4 linked regions of the Homo sapiens genome follow. The protein of the gene in region 4 interacts with the protein of the main gene of each other region in a biochemical or structural test. Each region holds a gene or a part of one and is shown on either strand. Other genes may lie near its edges.

Evidence for each region.
Region 1: the proteins of USO1 (region 4) and GOSR1 form a complex in vitro, tested with the Homo sapiens proteins (one study listed by BioGRID).
Region 2: the proteins of USO1 (region 4) and SCFD1 form a complex in vitro, tested with the Homo sapiens proteins (one study listed by BioGRID).
Region 3: the proteins of USO1 (region 4) and GOLGB1 form a complex in vitro, tested with the Homo sapiens proteins (one study listed by BioGRID).

Annotation. Positions count from the first base shown.
Region 1 is NC_000017.11:30,522,389-30,528,103, reverse strand, and holds the end of GOSR1 (Golgi SNAP receptor complex member 1), read right to left. Parts: 3' UTR 512-5,715; downstream 1-511. UniProt on the Homo sapiens protein: Involved in transport from the ER to the Golgi apparatus as well as in intra-Golgi transport. It belongs to a super-family of proteins called t-SNAREs or soluble NSF (N-ethylmaleimide-sensitive factor) attachment protein receptor.
Region 2 is NC_000014.9:30,618,498-30,625,337, reverse strand, and holds the start of SCFD1 (sec1 family domain-containing protein 1), read right to left. Parts: upstream 3,020-6,840; 5' UTR 3,000-3,019; coding exon 2,939-2,999; exon of another isoform or gene 2,876-2,938; intron 1-2,875. UniProt on the Homo sapiens protein: Plays a role in SNARE-pin assembly and Golgi-to-ER retrograde transport via its interaction with COG4. Involved in vesicular transport between the endoplasmic reticulum and the Golgi.
Region 3 is NC_000003.12:121,746,726-121,754,608, forward strand, and holds the start of GOLGB1 (golgin subfamily B member 1), read right to left. Parts: upstream 3,017-7,883; 5' UTR 2,907-3,016; exon of another isoform or gene 2,285-2,906; intron 1-2,284. UniProt on the Homo sapiens protein: May participate in forming intercisternal cross-bridges of the Golgi complex.
Region 4 is NC_000004.12:75,727,550-75,734,579, reverse strand, and holds part of USO1 (general vesicular transport factor p115), read right to left. Parts: intron 1-7,030. UniProt on the Homo sapiens protein: General vesicular transport factor required for intercisternal transport in the Golgi stack; it is required for transcytotic fusion and/or subsequent binding of the vesicles to the target membrane.

The sequences.
Region 1 (5,715 bases), on a different chromosome or scaffold from region 4:
ATATTCACACATTACTGGTAGGCACGGGCATTGGCACAATTGCTTTGGAAAAATGTCTGACAACATATCTTAAAACTGAGTATGTGCATCACCTATAATCCAACAATCTTATTCCTAGGTATAAGCAACAGAAAAGTGTACATGTGTGTCCCAAAACCCATGTTCGAGAATGTCCAGAGCAGCACAATTTGTAATAGTTCCAAACTAAAAATAAAAGCTATCGGTCTAGAATGGAATGACTAAATAGAATGTGTGTACTTATAGAGCGTGGTTCTCCACCTCTGGCATGCATCAGAACCGCTTGGAGGCTGGTTAAACTGATTGCTGGGTTCCACCTGTCTATCTACACAGAACCGACCTTATATTTCCCCGCTCAGCTGCCTTTATCAAAATTAAGGATGTCTGCTGATCACCTCTTGAATGTTCTCTCCTCTCCCACATCAGCAAGAGGGAAAAAAAGAGGCAAAAGAGGCCCGGTTTCTCGCTATTAGGACAAACCCAAGGATATCTCTTATGTCAGGTGAGCCCTGTACCCCTGGCTTTGCTGAGATGCTTATGAGCATTTCCTCACATAACCCTGACAATATAATCAGGGCACAATTATGGTAGCCATCCTTATCACCATTTTATAGAAGAGGAATTGATCACTGGCTGGATTAATTGCAAAGCTCTAAAATTAGACAGTGGGGCTGGTTGCACAACTAATGTACTAAAGCCCAGCAGTACACGATTTTTAAAAAATTAATTTATTTTTGAGACAGGGTCTCTGTCACCCAGGCTGGAGTACAGTGGCACAATCGTTGCTTACTGCAGCCTTGACCTCCTGGGCTCATGATCCTCCTACCTCAGCCTTCCGAGTAGCTGGGACTATAGGTGCACACCATCATGAATGGCTAATTTTAGTTTTTGTAGAGACAAGGTCTTTGCTGTGTTGCCCAGACTGGTCTCAAATCCCTGGTCTCAAGCAATCCTCCTGCCTCGGCCTCTCGAACTGCTGGGATTACAGGTGTTAGCCACTGCACCCAGCCAATTCTACAATTGTAGATTCCCATTATGCCTCCTGAAGTTTCATGTTAAGAGATTCCCCTTCACTTCTAGGGCTAAAATACTAGTGGACTGTTCATATGATGGTTTCTGAATGACATGTGACAGCTTTTCAGCACCTGTATTATTTCATCCTGGGTTTCAGGACATCATGAGAAACACTTATCAACACCAGAGATACCATAATCTCTATCCCCAAACTACCTTGATGGTTACTGTTTCAATATAAACAATTACAAATGCAATCATTTAGATTTCTAATTTATTATTAAATTACATACCAAAGCTTCTTCTATACAGTCAGAAAATGCACATTTAGATGAGAACAAAAATTAAGTACAAATACAATAAAATTGGTTCCAAGAAGCTATTTTAAAAGCAAAAACTTACAAAGTGCATTTGGAAAACAATAGGTTTTAAAAATCTGTATTGGCATTTTTTCAAGAGGAAACATCTTCCATCACAGGAAAGTATGGTTGGAATTGATTTCCCTCCTCCCTTAAGAGCTAACAGGGTGGGAATGGATGCAAATACCTTGATATTAAAGTGAGCTCTCAGGTATCTTTTAATTTTTTTTGCAGAGACAGAGTCTTGCTACATTGCCCAGGCTGGTCTCAAACTCCTGGCCTCAAACGATCCGCCTGCCTTGGTCTCCCAAAGTGCTAAGATTACAGGCGTGAGCCACTGCACCCAGCCCTATTGTCATGGTTTTTCATATTTTTTCAGTGAAATGAAAAGTTTTGAGTGGTTACTTAAAAGGACCAAAAAGGAAAGATTCATTATAATAAGACAATAGTTGAGGGGGCATAACTTCCCCTAAGAGGTAACATTTGGATCCAGAAGTAGAAAATTCCTTCTGACCTCCTGGCTGTGACTAGCATTAACAAGTAACTAACTGTTAGCCTCTGAATCTGGTAACTGGTCCGTAAGGAGGACAGCAAAAAAGGAGAGAAAGCCAAGGTGGTTAAACAAAAAAGTTAAATGACATGGAGCTGAAAGAGCTCAAATCCCTTCATGGGATCCCCACGGAGCCCCTTCCTGTGGACACACACCTCTCTTCCCTTGCTGGAGGTTTCTTTCTGCAAAGAAACCCTAAGAGGAAAAAGCACTGGCCTAGCTGTCTACATGTGGCCCTGGGTCACCTTAGTATAGGCTGCAGCACGGAGAGGTTAGTCAGACCTATCTGACACCAACATCCATACCAAGCCTTTTAACTTCCTTGGAAGAACTGGTTTATTTTCATAAAGAAAATAACCAACATAATTCCATTACTTCACATAAGCAAAACCCTAATGGAAAGGCCCATCAGCCATCAACAGGGTTTGCTTGGCTGCAGTGAGCTAGACTAGCTTGTGTCCCAGTTCACTCTCACACAATCAGCTTTAATGAATGCACAAAAGAATCAGACCAGTAAAAAAGACTGGTAGTATAATTAAATAAATAACTTTATTTATGATACTTCAGATTTTATAAATGCCAACTACATAGCAAAGTCCCATAAATTTTAACCGAGACACAACCACCAATCAAGGCCCTTTGAAAAATCAAAGATAATAAAGTGTCAAGGGAGAAAAGTTTTGTTCTCCCAACAGAGAATTTAATCAATGAACTTACTTCTCTGATCATTTAAGGTTCACAATGGGAAAACTTCTTTTCTTTTAAGGGTACCCTGAATCAATTAACAGTCAATCAACCCACATTTAGAAAAATAAACCCCATAGTTAAGAAAAATATATCAAATGCCCTTCACACCCATAATGTAACAAAACTTTGACACCAGAATGAAAAACTTCTCAGTCTCTGTACCAAACCAGGTGTTAGTCCACCCATGAGCAAGTTCGCCTGAATAACAGCATCTATACACCATGATGTAGCTGAGAACTACAGCTGATATCCTTTTATTGCCTGTGGCTCGGACTGAAGCCAATACTATAAATACCACAGTGAATTCCAATGGTGAAGAGCAGCAGTGTAGATGTTGGAAGTCTACAAACCAGGCTGTAGTTCAGTAAGACAAGTCATGAATTTACAGAAACTAAGAAATGGTTAACTCGAAAAGAATTCTGGTGGCTGGCTTAAAATCTGTCACTGTCCAGGGATGGTAACAGAAGACAGGTGCAGAGAGAGACAGATTCTGCCACATGCACCCTCAACAGTGAAACCATTCTCTGGATGTTTGGAAATGCTTAACAGATTTGGAATGAACAGATTTTCACAGAACTCAGGATTCCTGGTACATCAGGCAGTAGTCCTTAAACTTTTGCCCATACGTTGTGGAGCATTTACAAAAGCAATTCTCTGGACAGTGAGCCCTCAATGCCTTTTTATATGTGGCTTCTTGAATAGATCACATTAGAAATTGAGCAGTCCCCTTCCTCAGCTACCAGTGTCAATGCTGGTATGAGGAGGAGCAGTGGGGGCACTGACAGACACTGGTGATTCGTTTCTTTTATCATAGTGGAACTGAGATTTCATTTCTTTTCAGTAGAAAATATTAATCCAAGGGAAGAATTAAAAAAAAAATGGAAACAATGACTGGTGCCTTAAATATAAGACTGTCATTCTTGATGTTTTTCCAGCAATACAGTTAACCCCAGTGTACTTGTAATTTAAAAGAAAAAGACAGTTTTACAGTGATCTCCATTTCAGACAACCTCAAACATGCTGAAGCTGGTCCATCAGCATCTCAAAGAATCTATGAAAAACAGAATTTTCCCCAAATATCAACAGAGTTGAGGAGACAGAGTAGAAATCTATAGCACAGATCATCAAGAAAGAACTTGTGATTTCTCATTATGAGTGTAAAATAAGAGGACAAGAATTATTATTATATTATTTTTTTTTTAATTGATCATTCTTGGGTGTTTCTCGCAGAGGGGGATTTGGCAGGGTCATAGGACAATAGTGGAGGGAAGGTCAGCAGATCAACAAGTGAACAAAGGTCTCTGGTTTTCCTAGGCAGAGGACCCTGCCGCCTTCCGCAGTGTTTGTGTCCCTGGGTACTTGAGATTAGGGAGTGGTGATGACTCTTAAGGAGCATGCTGCCTTCAAGCATCTGTTTAACAAAGCACATCTTGCACCACCCTTAATCCATTTAACCCTGAGTGGACACAGCACATGTTTCAGAGAGCACCAGGTTGGGGGTAAGGTCATAGATCAACAGGATCCCAAGGCAGAAGAATTTTTCTTAGTACAGAACAAAATGAAAAGTCTCCCATGTCTACTTCTTTCTACACAGACACGGCAACCATCCAATTTCTCAATCTTTTCCCCACCTTTCCGCCTTTTCTATTCCACAAAACCGCCATTGTCATCATGGCCCGTTCTCAATGAGCTGCTGGGCACACCTCCCAGATGGGGTGGTGGCCAGGCAGAGGGGCTCCTCACTTCCCAGTAGGGGCGGCCGGGCAGGGGCGGCCGGGCAGAGGCGCCCCCCACCTCCCTCCCGGACGGGGCGGCTGGCCGGGCGGGGGGCTGATCCCCCCCACCTCCCTCCCGGACGGGGCGGCTGGCCGGGCGGGGGGCTGACCCCCCCACCTCCCTCCCGGACGGGGCAGCTGCCCGGGCGTAGACGCTCCTCACTTCCCAGATGGGGTGGCTGCCGGGCGGAGGGGCTCCTCACTTCTCAGACAGGGCGGCTGCCGGGCGGAGGTCTCCTCACTTCTCAGACGGGGTGGCCAGACAGAGACGCTCCTCACCTCCCAGACGGGGTCGCGGCCGGGCAGAGGAGCTCCTCACATCCCAGACGGGGCGGCGGGGCAGAGGCGCTCCCCACATCTCAGACGATGGGCGGCCGGGCAGAGACGCTCCTCACTTCCTAGATGGGATGGCGGCTGGGAAGAGGCGCTCCTCACTTCCTAGATGGGATGGCGGCCGGGCAGAGGCGCTCCTCACTTTCCAGACGGGGTGGCGGCCGGGCAGAGGCTGCAATCTCGGCACTTTGGGAGGCCAAGGCAGGTGGCTGGGAGGTGGAGGTTGTAGTGAGCCGAGATCACGCCACTGCACTCCAGCCTGGGCACCATTGAGCACTGAGTGAACGAGACTCCGTCTGCAATCCCGGCACCTCGGGAGGCCGAGGCAGTCAGGCGTGGCGGCGCTCGCCTGCAATTGCAGGCACTCGGCAGGCTGAGGCAGGAGAATCAGGCAGGGAGGTTGCAGTGAGCCGAGATGGCAGCAGTACAGTCCAGCTTCGGCTCGGCATCAGAGGGAGACCGTGGAAAGAGGGAGACCGTGGGGAGAGGGAGAGGGAGAGGGAAGAATTATTTTTATTCACAATCCAATCTGGCAGCTAAAAGAAAAGCAGTCTTTGGATGTAGAAACCTGGTTTTCTGAAGAGCCCAGCTGTAAGACCTGGCTTGTCATTAGGCTTCAACACTATCATGGAAACACAGAAAACTCTGTTTTTGATTGGTTTACCTGCCTCCTAGGGAGACAAAAGCAACTGAAAACCTTTTTTTTTTTTTTTTAATTAAAAACAGAAAAATGTGTTAGAAAACACAGCACAGAGAAACTGTGGCTTCAGCTCAACCTGACCATGTCACAGAGTCCATCACTGTCAGTCTTGCATTCATCCTGCTGGTCAGGCTAATTATCAAGACAGTCAACTTCTCCCTCCGATGTTTCCTTATTCCAGACCAGGGTGTGAAAGCGGTGGCTGTCAAGAGTCCCTGA
Region 2 (6,840 bases), on a different chromosome or scaffold from region 4:
TATTCCAAAATCAAAAACACTCCTGGTCGCAAGCATTTTGGATAAGGGATACTCAACCTGTATCCATATTCCTAGACTTGGTTAATGTCATTACTTACATACACACTATTCATTCATTCAACACGTTTGATGAGTGCTCACCACAGGCACTGTAGTTATTGGGGATCTAGCAACTGAACAAAACAGTGAATAAAATCGCCTGTCCTCAAGTAGCTTTCATTCTAATTGGGGGATAAAAAAAATAAAATAAAAAAAAAGTAAAACATATGGTATGTAGATCATGGTAAGTGCTTTGAAGAAAGGTAAGATTGGGAAAGGGGAAGATGGAGTTGAGGTGTAATTTTAAACAGAATAATTGGGGAAAGCCTCCTGAGAAGGTAACATTTGAGTAAAGACCTAAAGGAAGTGAGGGAGTGAGCCATGGAGATTATCTCTGAAACAGTACTCCACAAAGAAGAAACAAATACAAAGGCTCGAAGGTGGGAGCATTCCTGGTGGGTTCAAGGAGAGGGAAGAGAAATAGGGAGTGAGGTCCAAAAGCTACATGGAAACCAGATCGTATAAAGCCTTGTAGAACACTGTAAGATCACTTTGGCTTTTATCATGGTTGAAATGGGAAGATGCTGGAAGATTTTGAGCAAACATATGGCATGATCAGTTTGGGTACTGTGTGAAAAATAATGAAGGAGAACAGGATTGTAAAAGCAAAGAGACCAAATAGGTTACTGCAGAAATTCATGGTGGACAGGACCTCGGAATAGCAATGACAACAGTCAGATCCTGGATGTATTTTCAGAGTAGAACTGACAAGATTTACTGAAAGATCTTACATGAGACATGAAAGAGACAAGTCAAGAAAACTTCAAGGTTTTTGACCTGAACAACTAAAAGGACGGAACTGCCATTAACTGATATGGAGTAGACTGAGTTCAGATGGGACGGCCAGACTAGGGATATAAACCTGGGAATCATCAACATACAGATAATACTGAAAGCTAAGGCGCTAGATGAGAACACTAATGGGACCCTGCAATGTTGAGAAGCTGGGAAGATGTGCAAGAACCTGTAACGAAGACGCATTCAATGAAGAACAACAGTAACACGGAGCAGGAGGCAACTGATTCTACCTATTGAACTGAAGGTATGGATAGAGGGGACAGTGAACCAGGAAGAAAGGAGATGGCTTGTGGGATGACCTTCAAAAGATCAATAAAGATTTTTCAGGAGACCAATAAAGATTTTTCAGGCAGGCAAAGCAAGAAACAGGCACGTTAGTTTACCTCTATCTTACTTTCCTCACCTGTAAAATGGAGATAATACATAATCACCTAATGCAATGCCTAACAATAGTAAATGCTCAATAAATGCCAACTATTATCTCATCCACCCAAATATTCTAGTATCTAGAATATTTAAGGACTGTGAGTTATCTCCCAAAACATTCTCCATAGGCATGAGGGAAATAGCTAATTCTGCATTATAATATATATACAAGGATTTACCTTCCTCTGAAAATAAGGCAGAATTCAATGACAGTAAAAATTTGATAAAAAATAGATCTAGCACTACCTAGTAATTCTGTAAAATCTTACTATGTTTATTTCTGCAGAAATACAAACGATTAGATTTTAATGATCTACAAAATTTCTGCATACAAGTTTACGGCCACGCAAATTTATTTTTCAAAAAGCTCTCTTGTATTGGTACAGTTTTACTGACACGTTATTTTAATATGTAGTATAGTCATCAGAAACACAGTATTAAAACAAATGGAGCTTCCATTTGTTTAAACATATACAACGAATGGCAGGTATGCCCCAAATCTTATTTGAACTTCCCTATATTTAGTTATGCCTGACTTCACCTGATAGGTTATACTAAATTATTTACTGGGAAAAGCAGAACGCAACTCAGTATCTTTTGTGTGTCATTACTAAATTGAAGTCTATCACTTTTTCTTTAAATGCCAAAGGAAGGAATCAAGTACAGCCCAAATCCCTTCTGTAGGTCATATGAATTATAAATTTATTTTCCTATTCATATTTATATCCAACAGAGCATAATTTCAGGAAACAGAATTCCAAGTATGCACATTCTTGATGCCTTATTTCTATTAGCTCCTCAGAATAAATTGCTTGAAAACTTTTAAGACAACTAGTTAACAAGTATAAACCTTTAGTTTGTAGCTAACAGGTATAAACCAAGTTGTCATGAGAAGTTTTCAAGTAAGGCAAAACTAATTTCTAAGACGGAAAAAAACCCAAAACTCAAGAGAAGAATATGTGCCTTTTTACATTTCTCTGCATAAATAGAAGCTATATAAACATGCTCTATTGAAGATAAAATATTATTTTAAAACAATGTGTCAAACAATTAAAATGAGAAAGCTATTAATTCATTTGTTTTGCCATTCTTCAATGCCTTCCAGCAAGCTGAAGGAGAAAATGTTTATCACCAGGCATTTTTCTGCAGGTACCCCCAAAAGACTGGTCCGAAGTAGAGAAGTGGCGCAAAGCAAGCCGCTGTGAAAATACCTAAATTCTCTGAGTGTCAGAAAATGGGAGTTCTCTTAAAAATCAAAACCAGGAGAACTGAACCACGCACAGAAACTCGGAGACCTCATAGGTGGCAACATAGATAAGAAGCTATCAGCTGCTAGATCTTGTTGTGATGGCCTTCTGATGCCCACTAGGAAGGAGACAAGAGCAGGGCCGTAGCAATCCGCCCACCGCTGAAGCTCCTTCTCCTGCACCACAGGAGGAACCGAGTCCTCAAGCTAATGGCAACTTCTCCCCAAAAACTCAAAGGGGAGGGGCTCTTGATGTTCTAGGGACTGGATTAAACTCCTGGAGATCGGTCTCTGAGCTGCACGCACCAGAGGAGAAGGATGTCGTCGGGGCAGTCACGAAGCTTCAAGGAGAAGAGAATAAGTCAGTACCTGTCTGCCTTTCCCGAATACTGGCTGCTGCTGCTGCTGTCGCTGCCGCCGCCGCCGCCATCTTGGCTCCCACGAGCCACTGCCCGGCTGGGGAGCGGAGCGGGGGGATGACGTGGCTGCCCTTACCGCCCCGGAAGCAAAGCCCGGAAGGGCGGGGCCAAAGGGTGTGCCTGAGTTCCGGACCCCACCTCCTCCAGGAAGACCTCCACTCTCGGTAGAACTGGGAGACCCGGTGCAGGTTAATTCAGTGGCCCGTAATGTTAGGCGAATACTAAGAGTTTTTATCCTACCGAATCAAGCCACACTCTCTCAAATGGTAGCAACATTAAATTGAGCTGTTAGGGTAGGAGCGTGTAGTGCTAAGAACCTAATTACTGAACTGTTGGTTTGGTGACTTACAGAGCACTTAAAGGGTGATAATGCTCTAGGAGTATAAGGACCACAGGACTGAAGTAAATGAAGCTCCTGAAACACAGGCAACATTTTAACGTTAGCTCTCGTTTCTCAGTGCAGCAGGAGTCTTCCCTTTGCTCCTTTCTCCAGAGAAACGGAAAGCATTGGAGCATTACTCTGATCTGGCATATTTCTCAGTCGCATCTCTTTAAAAAAAAAGGTGTAGCTTTATGGTGGCGTTCTGCCGGCATGGACACGGGATCCAGGGAGGTACAAAATGAGAAATTAGCATTTCTCCTCTTTCCTTGTAGTAATTGCAAAATCACCTTGCCGTGGGAAGGAAGTCAAGCAGTAGTGGGGTGTGTTGCCTAGGCTGGAGCGCGCAATCAGGGATCACTGCAGCCTCAAATTCTGACGGTCAAACGATCCTCCTGCTTCAGTCTCCCAAGTAGCTAGGGACTACAGGGGCACACCATCAGGCCAGGCTGATGTGCTGGTTTTTGTTGTTGTTTTGTTTTTGAGATAGTATCTCACTGTCTGTCGCTCAGGCTGGAGTGCAGTGGCAGAATCTCGGCTCACTGTAGTCTCGACCTCCCGGACTCAAGCGATCCTCCCAAACTATCCTTCCACCTCAGACTGCCCACTAGTTGGGACTATAGGCAGGGGTCACCACGCCCGGCTAAATTTTTTTTTTTTTTTTTTGTAGAGACGGGGATTCACCATGTTGGCCAGGCTGGTCTTGTGCTGGCGGTTTAATGTACACTTGAAGCCACGTGACCGCAAAATATATGGGATAGATGATTTCTAACTTAATCCATAGATTTTACTGTATGACCAAAATGGATACACAATGACACCTCATTTCCCGAGTTCATTGATGACGCTTCATTATGAAGTTGCACCAAATTCTGAAATGAAATCACTCTGTACCTCAAAAGCTTAACTTTCACAATTATATAAATGAAATGGTTAGCCTAACGATTATATATTGTTTTATAGTGTGAAACACTGGCTTTTTTCATTAATAAAAATTTATTTTTGTGACATTTAAAACAGGTTATCTTATTACATAATCTCTGCCGGGTGCGGTGGCTCACGCCTGTAATCCCAGCACTTTGGGAGGTAGAGGTGGGCAGATCACCTGACGTCAGTAGTTCGAGACCAGCCTGGCCAACATGGTGAAACCCGGTCTCTACTAAAAATACAAAATTAGCCGGGTGTGGTGGTGGGCGCCTTTAATCCCAGCTACTGGGGAGGCTGAGGCAGGAAGAACTGCTTGAACCTGGGAGGCGGAGGATGCAGTGAGCAGAGATCGCGCCACTGCACTCCAGCCTGGGTGACTGAGTGAGATTCTGTCTCAAAAAAGAAAAAAAAATTATGTAATCTCATTTTTATAGCTAATTGGCACATTCATTAAGAAATTAACTGGAATACATGTGTGTCTTCAGTACTATTACTAATATTTTGAAGGAATCTTCAATGATCTAGGTGTGTTCCAACTAAACAAATTATTTCTGCCCTATGGGAAAGTTCTACTGCATTCTACAGTCTCTATGAAATATAAAATGTCTGAGAGCCCAATTTTGCTCATTTGGGTACTTCCACTTTCAAATGCAAATCCATCATTGAGCCACTTCAGTTCCATCACAGATTCTCTCCCAAGACTATGAGTCATGTTAAAACCACGAAGACAATTTTAAAATTGATGTACACTGCATATATATGAAATGATAAAAACTCCTGACCAAGTGCACAGAATGTGGGCAATAAATTTATAGAAAAATACACCTCACAGAAGAACAGCAACCATAGACAAATAGCCCTTGTAAGGCTGAGACTGAATAAGGTATTTGTTTTATTAGAATCAGAAAGACTGAAAATAATCTATGGCTACAGATTGTTCATTAACCTAATTTACTATAGCCATTTATCTGAGTCCAGATTTTTGGCTTAAATAATTTATTCTGGTAAGCTATTTTACATTAGAGGATACATAGTTTTAACACAGATTCCCTCATTTCTATAGGTTCCTGGGTGTCAGACACTAACTGCTTGCTTATAGGATCTCTCAAATGTGGAGAGTAAAGGAATCTTGTATCTTTCAGTTTCGTCAGAATCTTAATCTTATTAAATCCCAAAAAATTACTTAGTTTAAATAGGCAGTTTACCTTTAGTGGCATAAACACATTTATTTATTTATAAAACATTGTTATAAATGTCACGCTTTTTGGTTAATCTGGCAGTCTTTAAAAGGGGGGGAAATAGGCTGACATATAAACGATCACCTAGCATAATACCTGGCATAGTGTAGGTACTGGGATATGTTTATGAATTAGAAGAGATAATGGTCAAAATCAGAACTTGAAAACTGAGTCTCTTCAAGACAATCCAAATTTTCCTAAACCACAGATAATATACATTCAAGTAATTCATCATTAAATGGGTTATGTTTTGTATTGCATTACTTGAAGCATGAAACTTTGTATTGCATTACTTGAACCATAAAAACTAGTTTAATAGCTTATTTTAAAGTAACAATGCAGTACATGATAATCACTATATAAAAGAATTACATGTTTATAATGTAATGATTTTGTTCTGATCATTTTCTTATAATGACTGAATGCTAAAGGCACAGTCACTGAAAAAACTTACCTAATATACTCCCCTTGACTTAGTATTTAGCACTGAATACAAAAGTTCCAATAGCTTCCATATAATTAGGGGAAAAATTTACAAATGCATAAAATAGAAACCAAGGTGAATTCTCATGCTGGTAATCAATCAAAGGCTTTTTACTTAACCCAAACAAAAAAAGTCACTTCCTCAAATTACAGAAACTAAAAATTACAAAGTATAAAATTGTAAGTTTCTGGTGAGATATTTTAAAGAATATCTTGAATAGTAGAGAATTGTATAAAAGGTGTTAAAGTTTCCATATTGGAAAGTGTTTAAAAACAATGAATATCAAACTAACCAAAACCATTAACAGTAGATGCATTATAGATCAATTTATAGTTTTCCTCAACATTAAGAGCAAGAGAAAACAGCCTTAAAATATACAACATTTAGGCAATTGCAATATTTAAGAAATATATGTACACATTTATAAAGATTTATAGCATAATTCTTTTTTAAAATCTAATGTAAGAATTATGCACTGGTTATAAAATTAATAAGAAAAGAACAATTATAATACCAACCATTTGACAAAATGACACTGCAGAAAATAAATAACCTACAGGTTTCTCTGATATTCCTTGACCATACAGATTAATCTAAAAATGGTAATAATGGAACATCCTTCAAACTAGAAAACATTTTGCAAAATAAATATTTATGCTTCACTTTAAAACATGAATATCCTAAATTATTTACACCATCTTATCACTAAGGCCCTGTCTATATATAAAATAAGTCAAATGAGGAATTGAAATACTGTTTTTAATTGTAGCTAACCCAAGTACACTGCCTCTCCACCTGCCACCCCCACCCCAACAAAGTATGTG
Region 3 (7,883 bases), on a different chromosome or scaffold from region 4:
CGCCTTGGCCTCCCAAAGTGCTGGGATTACAGGCATGAGCCACTGCGCCCGGCCTAACTCACTTTATTCTTAAAACAACCGCAAGAGGGAGTACCGTCAATATTCCCAGTTTTAAGGTGAGTAAACTAAGGCAGAGGGATGTTAAGTAATTTCCCCAGTCACATAGTTCGACAAAGCTTCTTGGTGGGTGAAGATACACAGAAAATATTTTATTTTCTGAATAATCTCATTATCCAATATTCTTTACTCGGGTTGAAAACAGAATGAAGGGATAAAGGCACTATGTTAATAGTTAGGTAAGTACTTTTTTTTAAAGCAGTAAGTAAACTAAAATGATTCATATTAGTATGGCCCCAAATAATTCCATATTGTTTATACCACAGACAGGTTCACACAAGGGCCCTAAGATATATATACATGGATGTTATATATATATATATATATATATATATATATATATATATATATGGATGTTACATAACAAAACATGTTATGTATGGATGTTACATAACAAAACAAAAATCCATGTGTGTATATATATATGTATATATGTATATATGTATATATATGTGTATATATGTATATATGTATATATGTGTATATACGTATATATGTATATATATGTGTATATACGTATATATACGTATATGTCTATATACGTATATATATACATATATACGTATATATATGTATATATATACATATATACACATGGATGTTATATAACAAAACACTACAGCAGTGTTTTGATGGCTAATGACTGAAAATCTAAATGTCCATCAATGGGGACAGGCTAAATACTATTTTTATATTTTTACAAAGGACTGCTGTGTAGCCATGGAAAGGATGAGGTAGTTTTATACCCATGGATATTGAAAGTGCCTAATATACAGTACTAAATGGCAAAAGCATGTGTATTAGGATTCCACTTGTGGGAAAGACAGAAGGGGGTATATATTATCATGTGCTTTATTATGATCAGAAAGTTTCTTAAATATAACCAAGAAATTATTTACAGTGCTTACTTCTGGGAAGTGGGGAATGGAGATGGGTAGATCAGTAGATAGAAAAGAAAAAGACTTTTTTTACATTGTATCCTTCTGTATTAAATTTCCTTTTATCAAAAGCATATAGCTGATTTTAAAATAGCTTAATTAAAAATACAGCAATATAGAGCTTAGTCTCCTTTTACATAATGGTTTCTAACCACAGACTGGTATGTAATGATCAGTGGTATTCCTAATAGTAATTAACCTAGAGAAATTAATGAATGATTTATTTTATAAACAAGGATAAAGTCAACATCCCTTTAATTAATCCATTAATCAAAGGGAGAAAAAGAAAGGGGGCCTATAAAACTCAAGCAGAAGGTTGAAAAAAATCTTCTAAAGATCATGTTTAAGAAAGGCTGCATCCCAGAGTCTGGATGCCAGAAATGCCAACGACCTTCTTGAAAAACAAGGAAGTATCTTTACGTGATTGTCAAATTGGGTTGGGAGGTCCCAAGGTGTGGACAAGGCTTTTTAAAAACTTCATTCTTTTACGTTTATACTTTTGCATATTTCATATTATACACAACATATTTACAGTGGTAGTCATACACTATAAATAATTAAACACACAACATTTGGGGAGATGCATGCTCAAAAATGTTTTACTGATAGGGAGTGCAATTAAAAGGTTTGGAAGCTGCTGAGGTAGTAAAAAATATTGATGCAGTGAAAAGAAAAACATTAAATGGTCATTCTGTGGTCAAGGGATGAGAAGTAAAAGCTATGAAGCAGTTAATGTACAATGCCTGCAACTTTTGAGTACTCTTCAACTTTTTCCTGCATCTATTCCAAAACCAAATCCTGCCATTTTTCCAATAGGATATTTCCTGAGTTTGCCCCTTCATAACCATTCTGACCATCTAAATCTTATCAATTCACGCTTTTGGAAAGGCCTCTGGCCCTTATGTAAAGAGCCCTCCACTTGCTTGCATCTTGCACAGAACTGTAAAAAGGTCCTTTAAATGCTCAGACAGCTTCCAACTATCTCCAAAAGTGAAAGTACTTACCCATGATTGTAAATATCCCTGTCCCACTCTCAAACTGTCCGCTCCCCATAGACCAACTGGAGCTCTTTAAATAAGTCAGACAAATATATTCCTCATTCCTCAAAGGACTCACCCTCCCTTTCACATTCCGGTTGTGCAGATTAAACATACTCCACACCATCAAACCAAGTTATTTTTCCTCGAGAACTCTCTTAGAGGTTCCTTTTTCTCTAACAGCCTGCCCACCTCTGATTCCTGGGATTTTCGTGTTGACGGGATCGTTGGGATCTTTCCTCTCTTCTCATCTTTCCAGTAACCCATTAGCATTAGCAGGATTATTGGACAGGCCTCCGTTTGCATTAATATCTCCAATGATTCTGTGATCTCCGCCCTAAAGACCTTTGATTTCTTTTGGTCGCGCCTCCCCTTCGGGACACCAAGTTTGTTTAGGGCCTGAGCACAGGGGCCCAGCAGGTTCTTTCCGACGTCAGCGGCTGCGTACGGAGGCCGACTTAGGCAGGCCGCTCCAGGAACAAGGCCGTGCGGACAGGACTGACCTAGGCGCTTTTCCCCGTCGCTCCCAGAGGAGAAACGTACCGGGGAGGGGACAGACCGTGAGCAAGTGGTCCAAGTCTGCGCAGGGTGACCCCGAAGGCCCACCGGAGAGGCCGAGGCTTGTGGGCTACTAGAACTAGGCCTGGTAGGTGAAGGAGGCGGGTGAAGGGCCGGATCCAGGACTGAATCCGGGAGAGGCGGGGCGAGGAGGGGACTCCGGTGTAGCTGCTTGGGCAGCTCCCGCGGCCCCTCTGGCGGGGGTGACCGTTATTGGACTCGCAGAGGGAAGAGTTGGGTAGCGTCCCCTACTCACCTAGAAGCGCTGCCGCCTGAGGCTCCAGCTGCCCCCCTCCCAATTCAAGCCACGTCAGCTCGGGAAGCCCGTACGCGACACCTTCCACCGCCGCGCCCCGCCAGGGACTCAGCCACTAGCAGTTGGGACGGAAGATGGGATTAAGACACCGACCAATCAGGACTATCGGCAGGACGTTACCAGGGAGACCAGGCACACCTTGTTTGTTACCAACCTATCAACAATGACGGAAACCAATCAACGACAGAAGATGCTCCGCTTCCTCAAAGAAACAGCCAATGGACCCTAAAGAGTGAATGAGGGGAGTGATTAGACGCGAGTAGGTGCCCCGGAACAAGATCTGGGGAGGGACAGGAAGTGTCGAGTGGGCGGGCGTTCTGGGAAAGGTCAGATGTTCTCAGTGTGAAGTGGTTATGCTGGCTTCCTCCAATTCCTCCTCTTCGTCGGTTGTGACTGACCGAGACAGCGGCTTGGGCTTCGGCAGAGACTTGAGACTGCGGGCACCCGCTGCCATTAGGATTGTTGAATGAGCTGTGAGAAGGGAGTGGGGGATATGGGACTCTTAGATTGAAAAAATACTGGAGCCTCTTAGTTGTTCGTCTAGTTTCACCTTTTGATTTTGTTGATGAAAAATAATTAACCACAGAAGTAACTTGCCCAAAGTCAAACAGCGACTTAGTGATGGAACTCGGACTAGAACCCGGTGTCAGTATGAAAGAGGATCAGCAATGTCTGTAAGGACATGATTGTGAGAGAGAGAGTAGTGAATACTAGGAAGGTGCCTCTTACAAAGTGGAGCCTAAGCCAGGACCTAAGCAAAGATTGAGAGTTGAGGGCTCAGGCTCTGCAATGAGTGTCAGTGAGGAGCTCCAGCAAAAGACTGAAATCACTCATGCTTTCCTTAAACCCCTAAGGAAAGGGAAGGAAAGTAGCCAGTTTCCAATGAGCTGTCATTTCAGGCACTCTCTTGGCAATAAGAGTAATGTTAGTTTGAATTTATTGAATCTTGCTGTGCACTCAGCTGGCCCATTGTATGTATACTCATCTTAATGATTACATAACTTCACAATTCAAACATCAGCTAAGTAAGGCCTTTCCTGGCTGCCCATCTTACGGAACTGGAGGTCATTATTCTAAGTGAAATAAGTCTGGCACAGAAAGACAAATATCCCATGGTCTCACTCATGTGGGAGCTTAAAAAGTTGATCTCATGGAGTAGAGATAAGTACCAGAGGCTGGGAAGGTGGAGTTGGGGGAGGGAGGGAAGAGATTGGTTAATGGGTACAAACGTAGATAGAAGGAATAAGTTCAAGTGTTTGATAGCACAGTAGGGTGACTATAGTTAACAATATGTTATATATTTCAAAATAACTAGGAGATTAGAAATGTTCCAAACACAAAAATGATAAATGTTTGAGGTGATAGATATCCTAAACACCCTGATTTGATCATTACACATTGTATGCATATATCAAACTACCACACCCCATAAATATGTACAAATATGTATCAATACAAACATAAATAAAATTGCAATTTCCTGCATGCACTATATACTTCTTCTTTGCTTCTTTTTCCCCTAAGCATTTTGCCATCTAAAGTACTATATATTTCATTTATCTGGTATCTCTCTTCTCATTAGATTATAAGCTCCAGGAAGGTAGTAATTTTGATCTCAGCTTTATCTCCAGGTCCCAGAAAAGTATAGAGGAGGGCACTCAATATCTGTTAAATTAATAAAGTATATATGATTATCCTTATCTTAAATGTGAGACAATAAGACTTCAGAAGGTTAAATAATTTGCACAAGGTCACATGGTGAGGGGCAGAGACAGAATTTGAATGCTGCAGTACTTAATGAATACATCATATTCTTATATCCCTGATTGTATCCACCCAGCAAAGTCCTAAACCTGCATCAGTCCAACCATTGGTCTCTACTTCTACCTTTGGGGAGCAAAATGCTGCAGGAGACATCAGGACAATGTCATCAGTGACATCAATGTCCTGACCACTGCACATTCAGTTTCCAGCTGAACTCCATCTTCAGCACACTCCCAAATCCTTCTTGTCTTCAGCTTCCTCTCCTATTTGCCACAATTATTCAAACCTTTAACATCCTCTTTAAGTCCCAACCCCGTGTCTACACTTCACACTCCTAGCAGATGAACTTGCTTCTATCTTAGAGAAAATAGAAGCCATCACTGAGAGTCCTATTGTACTCCCTTACACAAAATTTACCTTTCTACATACTTATTTCCACATTCGACCTTAGAATTTACCTTTCAGTTTTAACAGAATGAAAGTTTCTTATGGGAGACGAGATTAGAATTTTTTCTGTCTAGTAGGTCTTCTTATAGCTCTACCTTCTATTATTGGGTGAGCACAGTATGGTGAGAATTATAGTGAACACTAGGGGTGTGAAGGAAGAAAATGAGGTGGAGAAGTTAAAGAGCAAAACATATTATTTCTAAGTTCACTGAAGGACTGGAAATAATTTAGAATGCAACTTAATGGAAGCAATTTAGGCTCTGAGAGGGTGATCAAGATAATAAAAGATAATTAGGGGTTGCCCCAGCAAAAAAGAGGGTACAGAATAGTGGAGGTAGATGGAGCAGCATGTGCATGGACCATTTGGGCAATTTGACATAAGTGATATGACTGAATGGTTAGGCAAAGAGTAGGTCATAAAATTGTGCCATTTTATGCTAAGGGGTTTGGATATGACTCTAAGCTCCAGAGCAGTTAGAGACTGCAGAAATCACAGAAGTGTGGAGTCATTCAGGTGTCCCTTAGAGAGTGATCATTTCCCTAATTGAAAGTACAGGGAGGAAAAGTTGAAAGACAAGAAATGTCACATTCTCTGTGATTTACTGTTGCCCAATTCCCTCTCCCCTTTTTCAGTTCTTTCCTCATCATCATCTTACCTTCCTCTATACCAAATGCAAACTTATTCCAAAACTTTCATGCAGCCTTATTTATTAATGTATCTTCCATACCTAACGTATCTTCAGCATAGTATATACTCAATAAATATTTGTTAAATAAAATATCCAACATAGAATTCTATATGAATAAATCTTAAAATCTTGGAGAAATAAGAAATTGTCTTGAAAAATATAACTTTGAGACATATCAATTATATGCAAAAATATACAATCACATGATCACATCAACCAATGAAGAAAAATATTTTCACAAGAAGAGGGAAGGTGGGGAAAGAAGAAGAGGGATGGTGGGGAAAGAGGAAGGGAGATGAGGGGGGAAAAAGAAGAAGGAAGGAGAGGAAAGAAAGGGGAAAGGAAGACGGAAGGTGGGGAAAGAAAAAGAGGGATGGTGGGGAAAGGGGAAAGAAGAGGGATGGTAGGGAAAGGGGAAAGAAGAAGAGGGATGGCAGGGGAAGAAGAAGAGGGAAGGTGGGGGAAGAAGAGAGGGAAGGTGGGGATAGGGAAAAGAAGCTGAGGAAAGAAGGTGGGGAAAGAAGAAGAGGGAAGGTGGGGGAAGAAGAAAAATCAACACCCATTCATGATTAAAAAAAAAAACTCAGAAAACTAGGAATCGAAGGATATTTACTCAACTTGATAGAAAAATATTGCAGATTCTTAATGGTGAGAAACTGGATGCTTTCCCTCTAAGATCAGGAACAAGGTAAGGATGTCCCCTGTCACTACTCCTAGGTGACATTATACTAAACCTCCTGCCTAATGTAAGACAATAAAGGGAAATAAAAGATATTCATACTAGCAAGTAATAAATAAAACTGTCTTTGTAGATGGCATGATTTTTTATGTAAAAAATATCTAAGAATAAACAAAAACCTCCTGGAATTAATAAGCAATTTTAACGAGGCTACAGGGTAAAAGGTCAATTGCTTTCCTCAGCAAAGAACAATTGGAATTTGAAATTAAAAACACAATACCATTTACATTAGCCTCAAAAAAAAAAGACGAAATAAATACTTAGGCATAAATCTAACAAAATATGTACAGGCTCTATGTGAAGGAAACTAGCAAACCTCTGATTAAAAAAATTAAAATCTAAATAAATTGAGAAATATTCCATATTCCCAGAAAGCATCAGTATTGTTACGATGTCAATTCTTCCCAACTTTATCTGTAGATTCAATAAGATCTCAATCAAAATCTTAGCACATTATTTTGTGGATATCAACAAATTAATTCTGAATTTTATATGAAAAAGTAAAAGACCCAGAATAATCCACAGACTATTCAAGAAGAACAAAGTTGGAGGACTGACGTTACCCAACTTCAAGACTTACTACACAGCTACAGTAAACAAGACAGCATGGTATTGGCTAAAGAATAGACAAATAGACCAATGGAACAGAATGGACAGCCCCAAAATAGATCCACATAAATGTAGACAACTGATCTTTGAGAATGGAGCAAAGGCAATTCAATGGAGAAAAGAGTCTTTTCAATACATGGTGCTAGAACAACTGGAAATCCACATGCAAAAAATGACACACACCTTATACCTTTTATACAAATTAACTCAAAGTGGATCTTAAGATGTAAATATAAAATGTAAAAATATAAAACATCTATAGGATAATTTGAGACTCTAGGTGACTTTGAGTTTGGTGATGACTTTTCAGATACAACACCAAAAGCATGAGCCAATGCGGGGGGGAGAACACAATAAGTTGGACTTGATTAAAATGAAAAACTTCTGCTCTGCAAAAGGCACCGTTAAGAAGATTAAAAAAACAAGGCACAGACTGGGAGAAAATATTTGTAGAATACCTATTTGATAAAGGACTGTTACCTAAAATACACAAGGAACTCTTATAATGCAAAAATTTTAATTAAAAAAATTCACAAGTGGGCAAAAGATCTGAACAGACACCTCACCAAAGAAGATACACAGATGGCAAATAAGCACACAAAAAAATGCAGCCGGGCACGATAGCTCATGCCTGTAATCCCAGCACTTTAGGAGGCCGAGGCAGGCAGA
Region 4 (7,030 bases):
AAAAAGAACAAAGCTGGAAAAATCACACTACCCCACTTCAAACTATACTACAAAGCTACACTAACCAAAACAGCCTATTACAGACATGGAGCAATGGAACAGGATAGAGAACCCAAAACTAAAGCCACACACCTACAACCATCTGATCTTTGACAAAATTGACAGTAACAAGCAATGGAGAAAGGACTACCTATCCAATAAATGGTGCTGGGATAACTGGATAGCCTTATGCAGAAGAATGAAACTGGGCCCTTACCTTTTACCATATACAAAAATTAACTCAAGATGGATTAAAGACATAAATATAAGACCTAAAACTATAAAAAGCCGAGAAGAGGCTGGGCATGGTGGCTTACGCCTGTAATCCCAGCACTTTGGGAGGTCAAGGTGGGAGGATCACGAGGTCAGGAGATCGAGACCATCCTGGCCAACATGGTGAAACCCTGTCTCTACTAAAAATACAAAAATTATCTGGGTGTGGTGGTGTGCATCTGTAGTCCCAGCTACTTGGGAGGCTGAAGCAGGAGAATCGCTTGAATCCGGGAGGCAGAGGTTGCAGTGAGCCAATCGCACCATTGCACTCACTCCAGCCTGGGTGACAGGGCCAGACTCCTACTCAAAAAAAAAAAAAAAAAAAAAAAAAATCCTCGAAGAAAATCTAGGAGATATCATCCTGGACATTGGCCTTGGCAAAGAATTTATGACTAAGTGCCCAAAAGCAATTGTGACAAAAACAAAAATTGACAAGTGGGACCTAATTATACTAAAGAGCTTCTGCACAGCAAAAGAAACTATCAACAGAGTAAACAAACAACTTATAACCTGGGAGAAAACATCTGCAAACCATGCATCTGACAAAGGTCTAATATTCAGAATCTGTAAGGAACTTAATTCAACAGGCAAAAACCAAAAACTCTTAAAAAATGGGCAAAGGACATGAACAGACACTTCTCCAAACAATACATATACATAGGCAAGAAATATATGGAAAAATGTTCCACACCACTAAATCATCTGACAAATGCAAGTCAAAACCACAGTGAAATACCATCTCCCACCAGTCAGAATGACTATTATTAAAAAGACAAAACAAACAAACAAAAAACAGATGTTAGAGAGGTTATAGAGAAAAGGGAATGCTATATACTGTTGGTGGGAATGTAATTTTAGTTCAGTCACTGTAGAGAGCAGTTGGGATATCTCTCAAAGAACTTAAAACAGAACTACCATTCGACCCAGCAGTCTCACTACTGTATTTTTTCAACAAATATTTGTCATGCAGCTAATACAGACTTAATTTATTTTTTTTAATTTTTTTTTTGAGACAGAGTCTCACTGTGTTGCCCAGGCTGGACTGCAGTGGCGTGATCTCGGCTCACTGCAACCTCTGCCTCCTGGGTTCAAGCTATTCTCCTGCCTCAGCCTCCCAAGTAGCTGGGACTACAGGTGCCCGCCACCACGCCCGGCTAATTTTTGTATTTGTAGTAGAGACGGGGTTTCACCATATTGGCCAGGCTGGTCTCGAACTCCTGACCTTGTAATCTGCCCGCCTCGGCCTCCCAAAGTGCTAAGATTATAGGCATGAGCCACCGCACCCGGCCCTACAGACGTGATTTTATGATATAACCTTACCTTCATGAAGCTTAAAACATTCCTAAAACAGAACTCCCCCAACTATGACTTTTTTTTTTTTTTTTTTTTTTAGATGGAATCTCGCTCTGTCGCCAGGCTGGAGTGCAGTGGCGCGATCTTGGCTCACTGCAACCTCCAACTCCCTGGTTCAAGTGATTCTCCTGCCTCAGCTTCCCAAGTAGCTGGGATTACAGGCACAGGTGCCACCATGCCCAGCTAATTTTTGTATTTTTAGTAGAGACGGGGTTTCACCATGTTGGCCAGGATGGTCTTGATCTCCTCACCTCGTGATCTGCCCGCCTCAGCCTCCCAAAGTGCTGGGATTACAGGCTTGAGCCACTGCGTCCAGTAACTATGACTATTTATTGTAAGACTAAAATAATCCATGCTAATAGTCATTTCAATTATAATGTTTTTAATGAAATAAGGGAAAATAAAGAAAAATAAATCATTCTATCAAAAAGCCATATGCACTTGCATATTCACTGGAGCACTATTCACAACTGCAAAGATGTGGAGTCAACCTAGGTGTCCATCAATAGTGGACTGGATAAAGAAAATGCAGTACATATATGCCATGGAATACTATGTCGACATGAAAAAGAATAAAATCATGCCCTTTGCAGCAACATAGATGCAGCTGGTAGCCATTATCCTAAGCGAATTAATATAGGAACAGAAAACCAAATACTGCATTTCCTCACTTACAAGTGGGAGCTAAACAATGAGTAAGCACGGACCTAAAGATGGGAGCAGTCAACACTGGGGACAACAACGGGGGGAAGGTGGGAGAGGGGGCGAGAGTTAAGAAACTACCCATCAGGTACCATCCTCACTACCTGGGTGATGGTTATACATCAAACCTTAGCAACAGGCAATTTACCCATGTAACAACTTGCACATGTAACCTTCTAAAACTTTAAAGTTATGGGGAAAAAATATTGTTTAGAGAAATGTTTATTTTCATAAACACATTTGCTTATGAAACAATACTAATTTACGTTTAATCGTTTATAAAAATATAAAAGCAAAAAAATTAAAGGACACTAGTGTAATACAGCTTGCAGTATTTTTTCACAATTCTTTTTTTTAAGTATTCAGTAACTACTTAACTGACAGGAAAAAATAAAGAACAGGAATGGCAATTAAAATGCTAACTCTAATCAATCAATCATTTATCCAACAAATATTTGTCAAGCACCTAATATTGATTTAATTTTATGATATAATCTTACCTTGAAATTTAAAACATAGTTGTACCTTCCTAAAACAGAATTTCCCTAACTGTAAGACAAATAATTCATGCTAATAGTCAATTCACTTATGTTTTAGATGAAATAAAAATATTATTGTTTTAGATTACAAAAGTCATTTTTTTTTTTTTTTGAGACGGAGTCTCACTCCATTGCCCAGGCTAGAGTGCAGTGGTGCGATCTTGGCTCATTGTAACCTCCACCTCGTGGGTTCAAGTGATTCTCCTGCCTCAGCCTCCCTAGTAGCTGGGATTACAGGCACCTGCCACCATGTCCAGCTAATTTTTGTATTTTTAGCAGAGACAGGGTTTCGTCATGTTGGCCAGGCTGGTCTCAAACTCCTGACCTCAGGTGATCCACCCGCCTCAGCCTACCAAAGTGCTGGGATTACAGGCGTGAGCCACCAGGCCTGGCCCAGAAATTTGTTTTAAATTTAACTCTGTTACTGAGAAGACTTTATTAAAACAGCAAAAGCAAATCTTATCTTCATATGACCTAAATTATTATAATCTATAAAAAGAGATGTGGGAACATTAAAAAATCAAACACAAGTCTCTTTGTAGACAAATCCAATGAATCCATTTCCATTATAGTTACCTTAAGTCAGCCAAGTAATATACTGCTTCATTTATTCTCCATGCTCTTTCCCATAAATGAACTATGCTTTTCAAAAGGACATCGTTTTAAGCAAGGGGTCATAATGAAACATGTCTACCAAATAACCTATCACAAATGCTAGCATCTCAAAATCTAACACCACAAAAGTTTTTCTGTAATCCCAGCACTTTGGGAAGCTGACAGGAGGATTGTTTGAGGCCAGGAGTTCAAGACCAGCCTGGGCAACATATTGTGAGCCTGTCTCTTTAAAAAAAAAAAAAAGTTTTCAAATTAATGGTGAATAACTTTTGACACAAAAAATGTTTATGGCACTTCTGCTTGAGGTATAAAAATAATAAGCATAACTTTACTATACCTACAACAGACAAAAAGCAGAGTACAAAGCAGTAATATTAATAATAAAAGGTAAATACATAAAAAGAAAGAGGAACAGTATTTGGTATCAACAAATGTATATAAGGAATTCTAATATTCTTTCCTAATCAGATTCAAGAGTAATGTTTTTAATGAAATAAAGGAAAATAAAGAAAAAGGCATCAGAATTATATATCCTCTTGGACAATTTTTCCCTAAGTATGCTTCTCAAAATAATAGATAACAAAGTTCCCTAGAGGAAAAAAAAAGGTCTGGTCAGATAAATTTGGCAAACAGCTTACTTTTTATCTACATTTTAAAAATATCTGAAACTATAACACAGTGCCTGCTTACAAAACCTTGCATAAATACTAGAGGTTTTTTCTTTGTTAGTGGTCGTTGCACACACTTCTTTGCTGACAAAATTTTTTTCATGGACATCTATTCAAATTTTTTGAAGCATACCTTGGTAATGCTACGGCATGTATAATTTAAATGATTCTAACTTTTAAATGAACCCTATATAATCTACAAAATTAACCTTCCAAAAAGCCATGTAGTATTCAATAGGCCCTACTTAAAAAGAGTGCTTCGATATAGAAATGACCAAAACACAAATCATTATTACAGTTCTCTCCGACATTGTTATTGCAAAACAGGCCAAGAGAGAAAACACATTCCAGTTATGACATTGACCTGGTTATTAATGTAGAATACATCAACCCAAATAGGAATTTCAGACTACACATTTATAGTAACATGGTATAAAATGTGCTTGACTAAACGAAAACTATGTCTAAATTTAAGTCCACACTCTTTAATAACAATTTTTATTAAAAGAAAATATGGCTGTGTTTATATTGTTAGCCCTTCTGCTTTCTGAGACAGCTGATGAAAGTTTGATCTGGAAAGAGACCCCATAACAATGTTCTAATTCTGTATGCTTTTTCTGGACATTAGCAACTTTCATGTCTCGGGGTCCAACTTGAGAACAGAAAATGCCTCTATGATTCATCATCAAATGTAGTTAACACTTGCTTGGAATTTTCAAGAAACTAGCTTTAAAAAAGGTACAAGTTGGGGGCTGGGCGCAGTGGCTCACGCCTATAATCCTAGCACTTTGAGAGGCCGAGGCGGGCAGACTGCCTGAGCTCAGGAGTTCAAGACCAGCCTGGGCATCACAGTGCAACCCTGTCTCTACTAAAATACAAAAAAATTAGCCTGGCGTGGTGGCGTGCACCTGTAGTCCCAGCTGCTCGGGAGACTGAGCCAGGAGAACTGCTTGAACCCAGGAGGCGGAGGCTGCAGTGAGCCGAGATTACGTCACTGCACTCCAGCCTGGGCGACAGAGCGAGACTTCGTACCCCACCCCCCTACCCAAAAAAAAGGTGCTAGATAGAAGGCAGATATAACACTAAGCACACATAAGCTTACATTCAAAAGCATGAAGTCCCTGGTGGTCTAGTGGTTAGGGAAAAAGAGAAAACTAAAAAACAAAAGCATGAGTAGGATTTGTACTATAATAATATGCACCCAGCAAACTGTGTCAAGGCTAAAGAGGCTTCAATCACCAGAAATCAGTGTCAAGTAAAAAAGAGAAATGAAATGTAAAAGTACCCGACTCTGGGGCCAGGTGCCGTGGCTCACACCTGTAATTCCAGCACTTTGGGAGGCCAAGGCAGGCGGATCACGAAGTCAGGAGATCGAGACCATCCTGGTTAACACGGTGAAACCCCATCTCCACTAAAAATACAAAAATTAGCCGGTGTGGTGGCAGACACCTGTAGTCCCAGCTACTTGGGAGGCTGAGGCAGAAGAATGGCGTGAACCCGGGAGGGGGAGCTTGCAGTGAGCCAAGATTGCGCCACTGCACTCCAGCCTGGGCCACAGAGCGAGACTCTGTCTCAAAACAAAACAAAACAAAAACAAAAACAAAAGTACATGACTCTAAAACAGAAAAAGTTTAATGTGGATGAAATTCTGAATTTAAAATATCCAGTACTTTATAGAATTGACTATCCTATGATAAAATATTTACTACTTGACAGGTTCTCAAGAACATCTTTCTTTTTGAGACAGTCTCGCTCTCTCGCCCAGGCTGGAATGCAGTGGCACAATCTTAACCACTCAGTGGTTGCTCACTGCCAACCACCGCCTCGATTCTCCTGCCTCAGCCTCCTGAGTAGCTGAGATTATAGGCATGTGCCACCATGCCCAGCTAATTTTTGTATTTTTAGTAGAGACAGGGTTTCACCATAAAAATGTGCTTGACTCCAGAAAGGAGTTTGGCCAGGCTGGTCTCAAACTCCTGACCTCAAGTGCTCCATCTGCCTTGGCCTCCCAAAGTGCTGGGATTATAGGCGTGAGCCCCCGGCCTGAAGAACATCTTAATATCAGTCCAAAGTTACTCTTAACTAAGAGTATGAAAAGCTAGATACTATACAATCAATCACATAACTCTCACACATTTAAAAGATACTTAAATTCAATAAGAAAAAAAAAAACAAGAAAGCAGTCAAAGCATTTAGTAAATATGAAAAAATCCCTTAAGTAAAAAGCTTGACACAATGAACTTCATTTGAGAACTTCAGTTTCTAGTCTTTAAAAAGTGTTTTAGTACCTAGTAACGTAAGTTGCTATAATTACAGATCTGTGATTTCTTTCAAATAAAACTATAATTAATTCATTTCACAAGTATTTACTGGGCATCTACTACTGTGGAAAAACAAAGATTAAAATACATTATGAACCCTGCCCTAAAGACACTTTAAGAGTCTAGAAGGAATAAGATATATGCACACTGTAGTTAAAATGTAAAGGTAGCTCAGAAAGGAAAAAGCATCTGAAACGTGCTGGGGGAAAGTACAGATTAGGGGAGGCGCTGATGATGAATTTAAATAACAGGTCTAATTCAGACAAAGAAAAGAGCCCTTCCATTGGAAAAAAGATGTTAGAAAAAGCAAGAAAGATGGAAAGCCACCATGAAAAAAATTTAATTTTGCAGAAATGGAAAAAACTACAAAATAATAAATGATAATATAGAAGCTAGGGGTTCCAAGCTCTGGTAACTCAAATATCCTGGCCAGACTAAATCATCAATTAAAACATCTAAAATTGTATATACACTCCACTGATGCTCTATAAATACTTCTAAATTAGTAATCCATGACCCC